Linked DNA regions of Homo sapiens: region 2 is linked to region 1. Evidence: fine-mapped expression QTL. A gene starts in region 1. The other region holds a variant in brackets. All regions are shown on one strand. Distances are from middle to middle.

Region 1 (5,375 bases):
CTATATTCCATGAATGCTTTACATTATTTACCTAAGGTCACAAGTTTATAAGGGGCAGGGCTGGGAGGTAGGCTGTCTGACTTCAGATAGTGCTCTTAACACAGTGTTCTCTCACCCATTGCTTGAGTATAAAACAAACACAAACTAAAATAAAATTGAAATATACCTCCTCATGCTTTACCCCTGGCCAACTGCAAATTCCTTCCTTTATGCTCCAGCACTCCCTGAACATATTTGCCATGAATGCTATCCTCTCCCCTGCTGAGCACATAAAATGTGCAAGGAAATAGATTAAAACTAGTTGTAAGCCTTTTCTCTTGGTGTAGAAACAGAGTCATAGACGAGTACTGGGTGAATGAATGAAGTATGGAGTCATAAAGTCAATCCCTCCTCCAAACTCCAGGTAGCACTGATAGCTATCTCTAGTTCTGTTGATGTTTTTTGTTCTTATAGAAAAACAGCAAGAAGACACCATTTCTCCCCTGCTGTCATGCTTTACTGCATCTCAGAATGACAGTCAGTGCTTCCCAAGGTCTCACACAGAAGACGCAAGCAGCCTGCACACATAATTTGGTTAAACTGCACGCACATTAAAAAAAATGTTTTGAATCAGTTGCTATCTTTAAAAATATATGAAGCTTGTTTTCCGTAAAAATTTACAGTTTCCCCCAAAACTAAGATCAGGCAACCATGTGCTGGAGCCCCACCGCACCTGCAGCTGCCCCCTTACTGGAGACAGGCTTAGCAGCACACAGCTCCCACCCAGCCCTCCTGTCCACCCGCCTCCTGCACTCAGGCTTCCTGACTGGTCCCTGCTGGCAGTGGAGTTTACACCACAGAACTGTACCTCCTCTTGCTGACATTTAGGTCAGTTCCAGTTCAGCCCATTCTGTCTTCCTCGGAACCCAAACAGAGAGCTCGCAGCCCTCTGACCACACAGTGCTCCTTCACCTCTCAGAGGACGCACAGTGCACCAGGCTGCAACACAAAGAGAACGGTTCGGATATCGTTGCGGCCTTGGATTAGTTCCAAAATGTCAAGCGGGCCTCTTAATGAGGGGTCTCTATTCTTGATGTTATGGCAGTGGAGCTACAGGGCAGGGAGAAGCCCTGAGTTAAAGAACTCACCTGTGTGCCATCAGGAAACCACGTGAAAAGCACTACCAAGGCAAAAGATCTGAGTTCAATCTGGGCTGCTTACCTAGCTGGGCAAGAATGCTTCATCTCTCCTGAGCCTCAGTTTCCTCACCTATCAAATGGGCTAGTAGAGCTTCACAAGGTTGTTGTGTGAATGAAAAAGTGTACATGAAAGTGCTTGTAAGCACCTGACAAGTATAAAATAAGACGGGTGTGGAGGAGGACCGGAAGAGAGGTGCTCTGAAAGAAGTAACAGAAATGGGTGCCATGCATTCCAGTTACAGTTGAAGAGCCTCTGTCTCTATGACCTGAGGTCCCTCCCACCTCCTCTTTCTGCCCTGAGGGCCTGAAAAATGCCTCTCTTCACTTGCTCCCAGTGGCTGCAGTAAAATAGATTATAAGGGAAAACCGCCTATTCCCCGAAGCAGTAGCTCTCCAGAACTCATCTGGAGGTCCAGGTCACTAGGGGAGAAGAAGCCAGGCTGAATCCACGCCTGGCTCCACGGAGGAGCCACAAGGATGGCCATCCTCCCCCAGCCCCTAGGACGCTGAGACAGGCTCACCGGAGGTTATCGGTGTCTCCATTGGACAATCAAGGAACTGAGGTTCTTTCCCTCCAAAACCACACACCTCCTCACGGCTTCACCGGGAGGTGGATCAAATGACCTGCTCTATGAAAGCACTTTGCAAAAGGGATGAAAGTACAATAACAAGCAAAAATAGCCTCCAAGATGTGATATAAAGCGATGCCAATGCGCAGCTATGTGGTTACTGGTGAGCAGACCTCCGGGAAGCACAGGACACACCCCACTTACCCAACAGACGTTCTCATCCCATATGCCTTTGTCCAAAGGTTGCACGGGGGTTAAGCTTGGCCCAGAAGGCGCCGAGGGCTGGTCGAGTTCTCCCCTTTCCAAGAACCAGCCGAATCTCCCTCCCGCAGATCTGAGGGGCAGAGCCGCCCATCCGGCGGCGCCGGGCCACTTCTGGGCGCGCCACCCGCCGCCCGCCCAGGCTCGGGGAGACAGCGCCCTGAGTCCCGGCTGGGAGAAGGCTGCTCACCTGGTCCTCACGGATTCCAGCCGAGGGGCGTGACCGCTTCTCCCCACACCCTTTGCCCTGAGCGGGACGTGGAGTCTCTTGGCCCCAGGGGGCGCGGCCCGCATCGGCAGAGTCCCGGGCACGCACCTACGCCCTCCCATCCAGCGGACTGTTTAGGGGCTTCGGGCGGCGCCGGAGAAACGGGGCGGGCTGCACCCAGCAGAATGGGGTGGGCCTCTCAGAAGCCCCAGGCCGCAGGGGAGGGGCGCGCCCCCAACATCTTCCCACAAAGAGCTCCAGCTCTCCAAAGCAAGGCGCAGTGCGGGCGGAGGACAGCCCTGACCTCCGAGAGGGGCGCGGGGAGAAAGGGAGCGCCGTGGGGGCGGGGACCCTTCCCGGCCCGCGCCCTGAGCCCTCAGCCTCGCACAATGAGTTTAGCCTGGCTCCATCCGGACCGCCCTCTCCGCCCGGGCCCGCGCCCGCGCCCCACGCCGGGTGCTCACCGAGGAGCGGCCGCCGCGGCAGCTCAGGCCCCGGCCCAGCCGCCTCCCCGCCTCGGCCACCGCCGCCGCCGCTTCCTTCCTCCCCGCCGCGCTCCGGGACTGGAGGTTTCGGGTTTCAGCCCACCGAGCCCCGCTTCGCTCCTCCCGCGGGCCAGCCACCAGCACGCGGACCCGGGCGGGCGCAGGCCAAGTAACTTTGCGGCGCCCGCGCCCCGCCCCGCCCCCCCCACGCCCGGCCGGGCCCCTCCGGCCCCCGGAGCCCCGAGCCGCCTCCCCGCGCCCCGCACTGCCCCGCCCCGCCCAGCTCCCGGCGCCCCTCCCCACCCGCGCCCCTTCCTTCGCGTCCGTCCGCCCGCCCTCCCGGCTGCTTCTTTCCCATTTCTTCCCACGAACAGCCTCGGCTGCTGCTCTTTGTCTCGCCCTTACCCTCTCGGCTCGCCCCACTTTTCTCCTGAAAACCTTTGTGGTGCCTAACTCAGGCCTTCCCTGTTCCCGTTCCTCCGCCCCAGTTCCAGCCGCTGGGACGTCGCCTTTTCCATGTCTCTCTCCATCACACAGACACTTTCAGATTCTTCCCGCAGGCTCCGCACAGTCCCATTCTCCTCCTCCAGTCCCGCCGTGGACGATCCTGGTATCGCCTTTGCTGCTCACCTTTCATTCATCCAGCCGACGGGCACGAGCATCCATCTGCCTTCTGCCAGGCTCTGTCCCGGGCTCTGTTAATACCACAGTGAATTCGTCCCGAAGCCAGCCCCGGGGAGTGGGGAGTGGACGTAAACAGGTCTTCACACTGCTGCCCTGCACTCCCTCGGAACCAAAAGGCCAGGGAGCAGTCATCACAAAACAAAGAGCGGGCGCTGTCAGCTCGGGGGACGGAACAGTTCCTTCTCAGAATGTTTGTTTTCCCTTCCTCACTCCCCACTTTGCCTGCCTGTCTCCAGACTCCTACGTTTTCTATGCAGCAGTCTTAATAAGGGGATGAAAAGTTGAAGCACAGAGTAGAACTGCTAAAAAGGGAAAGAAGGAAGGACAAACAGGGCAGCAAAATAATCAGGTAAGAAGTTACAAAGCCCAGTTCACTAAACTCCAGAAAAAAAAAAACAAACCCTGATGCTGTGCTTAGAGCAGGATTCACATTCCTCTGAAATCCATCTGCTTTGATAAATACATTAATTATTCCCTTGTCTACAGATTGACACTGTGGGAGATGCTTCCTTAATATTATTGGGCCACTGAGGCACAATTTAGAACAGTAATTTACTGTCTGGCACCTGCCAAACACCCACATTGCTCTGGGGACAAATGGGATAATGGGGAGAAAAAAGTAAATGGGTGCCTTAATATTCCTATGGGATAAATGCTTTATTTGGTCAAAAACTGGAAGCTGACGCTCCACTTAAGAGTCTAGGTCACGCGGCAAGCCAGACACTTGAAGGAGCTTAAAGCTTTCTGTTCTTAATAGTATTTTAGACACTTATTTTGAAATCCCTGATATTTATTTAATTTACACTGACTCAGATGTCGGCTAAGCTCTATGAGCCTGAGGGAGTGAGTTAACCTTCCTCTCAGCTTATTCATATATAAAATGGGGATACTCATACTTTCCTATCTGTAGAGTTGAAAAGGTTAAATGAGGTCATGTAAGTAAATCATCCAGTGACATAGAATCTGAGAACTAAACCCTTTTGAAAATTGGTATTCACGAAAGGTCTGAAAATATATGCCACAGACTGGCATGGTGAGAATGAGAATAAAAAATAAACAGTTACGGCTGTTGTGGCTCCATACCCATCCATGATGCGAAAGATGTCCTTCATACTGAGCAACCTTTTCCCATACTTACTCTATTTCATTTTGAACTCTTCAACAGAAAACACTTTTTTTCTCCTGCTGCTCATTATCAAATGCATTATTTATCACAAAGATTTTTCTTTTTTCTGAGCTCATAAGCTCAGAACTTACTGTGCATTCAGGGATGGAAATTGCTGCCAACAAATGCATTTTCAATTGCTCTCTTAAGATTTTTTTCCCTTCTGGAGCTAATATTGAGCTATGAGCAGAATTCAATCAGATGCAGAGAAAACAGACAAATTATTATTAAAGTAATTATTTCACCGTATATCATTGTATAGGTGACAATTGTGAAAAACGTGACTGATTTTGTGCAAGAATGTATTTATATTTTTTTAGAAAAAGAGAAAGATACACACTAATTCTCCTTTCCCAAATTAGTTTAATAAACCATTCTGTTTTAGAGACATCCACAAAGACTTATAAAGTAAGATAATGAGAGGCCTTGTCCAACTGAACCTCACATGTGTGTTGAATAATTTATATATAAAACATATTTTATGTAAAATATCATTTCAGTCTAGCAGTCCACATAAAACTGGTGAAAGCAAAACTGTGAAATATGCTATTTGTTCCACATGGAATGTTATTTCCTCCACTCTTTACAGGCCAAGCCCTTCCTGCCCTTCACATCTCACCTTAAATGTCACTTCCTTAGAGAAGTCTTCCCTGATGGGATCTTGCTATGTTGCCCAGGCTTGTCTTTAACTCCTGGGCTCAAGCTATCCTCTCACCTTGGCCTCCCAAAGTGCTGGAATTACAGATGTGAGCCACTGCACTCAGCCCCTGACCAATCTAAAAGAAATTCTCTAATCTATGTACTCTTTCACAGCTCTGTTGTTTT
Region 2 (5,375 bases), 250 kb before region 1:
AGGGCTCATGTCTCACTCATTTTTGTGCTTCCTCCCGCAAAGCCCAGTGGCAAGGTGCTGTGTTTGCAGAAAGAAAGCTGGAGATGAGCTGACCCAGCACACCTGTGTACTCGTGTCTCACAGTGTGTCCAACGATCCCACAGAAGACAATCCCACTGGCAACACCGATGGATACAGTTCTGGTGCAGGGGAGACAAGATTTGTGGGGAAAGAAATAAAGATAATGAGCGTAGAGAAAGTGGGAAGGGTGGGAAATAATGTCTGGGTTGGGAAAGGGTGGGAAAGGATTTTCTCTACCCGTTGGAATTAGTTTATGGCATTTCTACATGGCCCGGAGATGCGAAGGAGGAACAACAGTTTGAGACACAGGACTAAGTTCTTAATTAATTCTTCTTTCTTTCCTGTTCCCTGCATGCCCTCCCTACTTATGCCTCAAAAGGGTCAGGGACCGCTGGGTGGGACCAGGGTCAATACTCACTGGATTTTGTGGACTTGAGAGCAGAAGTCAAATATATCCATAGCACATTCCAGAGCATGAGTGAGCTCGTCAGGTACCTTTTCCCCAGGGAAGCCAAAGACACAGAGGAAAGAGCAGCCCTGTGAGGGAGAGAGACAGCAACCACAGCTGATGGACAGTGTGCTTTAAACTGGACTGGCCAGAAGGCTCAACAGAGAGCCGGCGGCAATTTTTGGCTTCTGAATCAGATTTTATCATGATTTCTCTCACAGTATTTTATTTTTAGTACACTTCAAACACTTCTACTGCATCATCAACAGGAGGGCTTGAGCCTTGAGAAGGGCTTGTTTTGCTCCAGATATAGTGAATAGGGCTGAGCTATCTGTGTGCATGCTTCGGCCTACTCTCTCCTGTGGCCAAGGTCCATGCTGCAAAGTGCTCAGTTTAAGTCTATGAAGCAGCAGCACAGAGCAGTGGAAAAGGCACCAGCTCTGGAATCAGAAAGTCTCTGTCCTCAAGCCACTTCTCAAGTGTGGAAACTTAGATAAGTCTATTACAATCTAGGAACTTCCGTTTATCTCTCTGAAAATGGATATACTGTAGACCTGCTGAGATGTTTTTGGCTACTAAAAGAATTAATGTGTTATATATATTCAAAAAGTCATCCTAAACTATAAAGTACTTTGCAGATACTGTTATTCTTAGGGATAAAGGCTTAGGCTGTAAGTAGGTTTTCTTATCATAAAGCTAACTGTTCCATGCAATGATTCAACTCTAAAACTTGGCATTTGTAGTATTAGTCACTTAAAAAATGACCTCAGTCAGGTGCTGTTGTCTGTAAGAAAAGGGCATTGTGAATAAAGGGTGATGGGTTGAAATTTTGAGTTTTTGACATGTTACATCCTGATAAAATGCAAAGAACACTAAAATACCTCAATTTCTTCAACCCTCTCCAAAAGAATTTGATCAACTGTTAGATCTTAAAAAGGACTGGGATCTGCCTTGACATGAAGGGGGAAACACTGCTTCTAGGTACGTGCAAAGAGGGCAACCCCTTTGGGGGAAGCAGGGAGCTTTTGCCTGCAAATTTATGTAGCGGCCTGGCAAGAGCTTTTGATTCCCCCTAGCAATGGAATGACAGCTCTCATTTATTGCACACTGACTCTAAGATAGGCATTACACCAAGTGCCTCACACATATTACATTATTTAAAACTTTCCACAATCATTTGAGACAAATACTATCCCCATTCAAAGAGGAATAAACCAAGGCTCAGAGAAGTTCAATGACTTGCTAAGTCTCACAGCTGGGAATCTTTGGAGCCATGTCTGCAAGACACGAAAGACTGTTCTCTTAGATTCTACACTCTTTTCTTATGATACCCATGGGTCAGTATTGAAGAAGGTACTGGAGACACCAGGCTGGAAGTAATCCCTTTCCAGAACTCCCATAGCACAGAGTTAGTTCGTCTCATATAGAATGCATGCTTCCTGCCTGGTTGTGTCAATATATGTGTTACTCATCTCTGCTGCCCAGCCCTAGCTTTTCGTCTTCTATGAAATGCTCAGTAAATGCTTGTTGAATTAGTGAGTGAGTGGATGTGGGGCAGTAATTAAGTGCTCTGCTTTTAATACACAAAAGGAATTGAGATGGGAAATCAATTCTCACATATGCATCTGTGGTCATTTGTTCATCACATCACTTTTCTCTGAATTGATTAAGAACAGAGTGAAGACCAGGTGCAGTGGCTCATGCCTGTAATCCCAGCACTTTGGGAGGCCGAGGCAGGTGGATCACTTGAGGTCAGGAATTCGAGACCCACCTGGCCAACATGGCGAAACCTCATCTCTACTAAAAATACAAAAATTAGCCAGGTGTGGTGGCGCATGCCTGTAATCCCAGCTACTCAGGAGGCTGAGTCAAGAGAATCGCTTGAACCCGGGAGGCGGAGGTTTCAGTGAGCCGAGATCATGCCACTGCATTCCAGCCTGGGCAATAGAGCAAGATTCCGTCT[C/CAAAA]AAAAAAAAAAAAAAAAAAAAGAACAGAGCGAAAACACCTGGGAGCCAGAGGCAGTCCCCTCCCTGCCATGGATGAAAATAAAAGGGGAACTGGAGGTGTTGACATGGCAAGTGGGCTTTCTTGGAAACAAGCTTCTGGGGTAAGATGGTTACTAAAGACTCCTGACCTGAAACCCCTGGGTAATACATCATGCACTGAGCTGGAGACTTATGTGTAGTGAGAGGTAGCCCAGCGTAGTGAGAGGTAGCCCAGCATAGTGAGCTCAGACGGGGATGGCAGACTGCCTGGGTTTGAATCCCAGCCTCCCCCTTACTAGCTTGATGATCATAAGCAAAACGTAATCTCGCCTTGTCCTGGTATCCTAATCTGTGTTTCAGCATCCTCATCTATATAATGAGGATAATGACAAGAGCAACCTACTGCTCAGAGTGGTCATGAGGATGAAATGAGTCAATAGAGATCAGGTCCTGAGAACAGTGCCTGGCACATAGTAAGTGCCATATCCACCATAGAAGTTATAATTATAAACAAAGACTGGCCTTCTAGGTTAAATTTCTTTTTTTGTTTAGTTGAGACGGAGTCTCACGCTATAGCCCAGGCTGGAGCGCAGTGGTGCGATCTCGGCTCACTGCAACCTCCGCCTCTCAGGTTCAAGCCATTGTCCTGCCTCAGCCTCCTGAGTAGCTGAGATTACAGGCACGTGCCACCGCACCCAGCTAATTTTTGCATTTTTAGTAGAGACAGGGTTTCACTATGTTGGCCAGTCTGGTCTTGAACTCCTGACCTCAAGTGATCCGCCCACCTCTGCCTCCCAAAGAGCTGGGATTACAGGCGTGAGCCACCACGCCCAGCCTCTAGGTTAAATTTCCTGTGTCTATTCTCACCAATGTGCTTGTCCATGAATGCTAACCTAAAACTATTGGTAGGTTCCCATCCCATAGTTCACACTTACCTTGTCAAACATGAAGACTTTATTGATTTGGCCTTGGAAGATCTTCAGGACAGAAGTGATGTGCATATAGGCATCCTGGATGGCTGGGCCTATCTCTTCTGCTTTGTCTTGGTCTTCAAACATCAGGTTCACAAACACAATCGTCACTGGGCGAAGCTCAGATAAATAGCCCTGAAGCTGTTTGTTATCAATCTGCAAAGTAGAGAGCAGCTTTCTGTAGGTGTCCTTGGCAGTGGATCCCTCCCCCAACACCGCCCCCACCTCATACCCGAAATCATCTAGGGAATGTCTACCTCAGAATGGGTGAGGTACAACATGACAGAGCCAGCATGCCTGAAGTGGAGCAGATGGAAATATAATCAAAATCCCTCTCTTCCAGTGGGGACTTATGCATGTGCTAATTTTTGGCCAGCAACCACTCCATTACCCCAACTGCTGGCTTCCTCATGCCAATATGAGCCATTGCAATAAGGGAAATAACTACTGTTCTTTTTGGCTCTCCTATTTTTAAAAAAATTTAAAATTTTTTAATTTTTGTAGGTCTATAGTAGATGTATATATTTTTGTGTTACATGAGATATTTTGATACAGGCATGCAATGCGTAATAATCACATCAGGGTAAATGGATTATTCATCCCCTCAAGCATTTATCCTTTGTGTTACAAACAATCCAATTATACTCTTTTAGTTATTTTTAAAATGTATGGTTGTATTAGTCCGTTCTCCCACTGTTATAAAGAACTACCTGATACTGGGTAATTTACAAGGAAAAGAGGTTTAATTGACTCACAGTTCCATGGGCTGTACAGGAAGCATGGCTGGGGAGGACTCAAACTTATAATATGGCAGAAGACGAAGGAGAAGCAGGCACTTCTTATATGGCCAGAGGAGAGCAGGGGGAGTGCTACACACTTTTAAACAATCAGATCCCATGAGAACTCATTCACTATCACGAGAACAGCAAGGGTATAATCCACCCCTATGATCCAATCACCTCCTACCAGTCCCCTCCACCAACATTGGGGATTATAATTCAACATGAGATTTGGGAGGGGATACAAATCCAAACCATATCAATGATTAAATTATTTTTTACTATAGTTACCCTGTTGTACTAGCAAATACTAGGTCTTTCTCATTCTTTCTCTTTTTTTGTACTCATTGACCACCCCCAATTCCTCCTCATCCCCCACTACCCTTCCCAGCCTTTGGTAACCATCCTTATATTCTCTACCCCCATGAGTTCAATCATTTTAATTTTTTTTTTTTTTTTTTTTTGAGACGGAGTCTCGCTCTGTTGCTCAGGCTGGAGTGCAGTGGCGCGATCTCGGCTCACTGCAACCTCTGCCTCCTGGGTTCAAGCGATTCTCCTGCCTCAGCTTCCAGAGTAGCTGGGATTGCAGGCATGCACCACCATGCCTGGCTAATTTTTGTATTTTTAGTAGAGACGGGGTTTCACTGTGTTAGTCAGACTGGTCTCGAACTCCTGACCTCATGATCTGCCTGCCTTGGCCTCCCAAAGTGCTGGGATTACAGGCATGAGCCACCATGCCCAGCCCAATAGTTTTAATTTTTAGCTCCCACAAATAAGTGAGAACATGTGGTTTCTCTTTCTATACCTGGTTTATTTCACTTAATATAATGACCTCCACTTCCATCCACGTTGTTGCAAATGACAGATCTCATTTTTTTTATGGCTGAATAGTACTTCGTTGTGTATATGTACCACATTTTCTTTATCCATTTCTCTGTTGATGGACACTTAAGCTGCTTCCAAGTCTTGACTACTGTGAATAGCACTGCAGTAAACATGGGAGTGTAGGTATCTCTTCAATATATTGATTTCTTTTCTTTTGAGTATGTATCTAGGAGTAGAATTTCTAGATTGTATGGTAGCTCTATTTTTAGCTTTTTGAGGAACTTTCAAACTGTTCTCCAAGGTGGCTGTGC

The links. PIP is the estimated chance that this variant, and not a neighbour inherited with it, causes the effect.
Region 2: its variant is fine-mapped to the expression of GPR161 in prefrontal cortex (BrainSeq, PIP 0.95).

Annotation. Positions count from the first base shown.
Region 1 is chr1:168,134,059-168,139,433 of GRCh38, forward strand. It overlaps GPR161 (G protein-coupled receptor 161), which reads right to left and starts at 2,872. Exons shown (of 6, transcript NM_001375883.1): 1 at 2,681-2,872. RefSeq lists silencers at 2,515-2,744, 3,273-3,567.
Region 2 is chr1:167,880,013-167,885,387 of GRCh38, forward strand. It overlaps ADCY10 (adenylate cyclase 10), which reads right to left. Exons shown (of 33, transcript NM_018417.6): 9 at 3,425-3,616; 10 at 479-597; 11 at 103-179. It also overlaps a transcript of DCAF6 not described here. Among named protein-coding and RNA genes, the nearest start is that of ADCY10, 31 kb to the right of the region's middle. The variant C/CAAAA (reference allele first, on the strand shown) is at 2,472.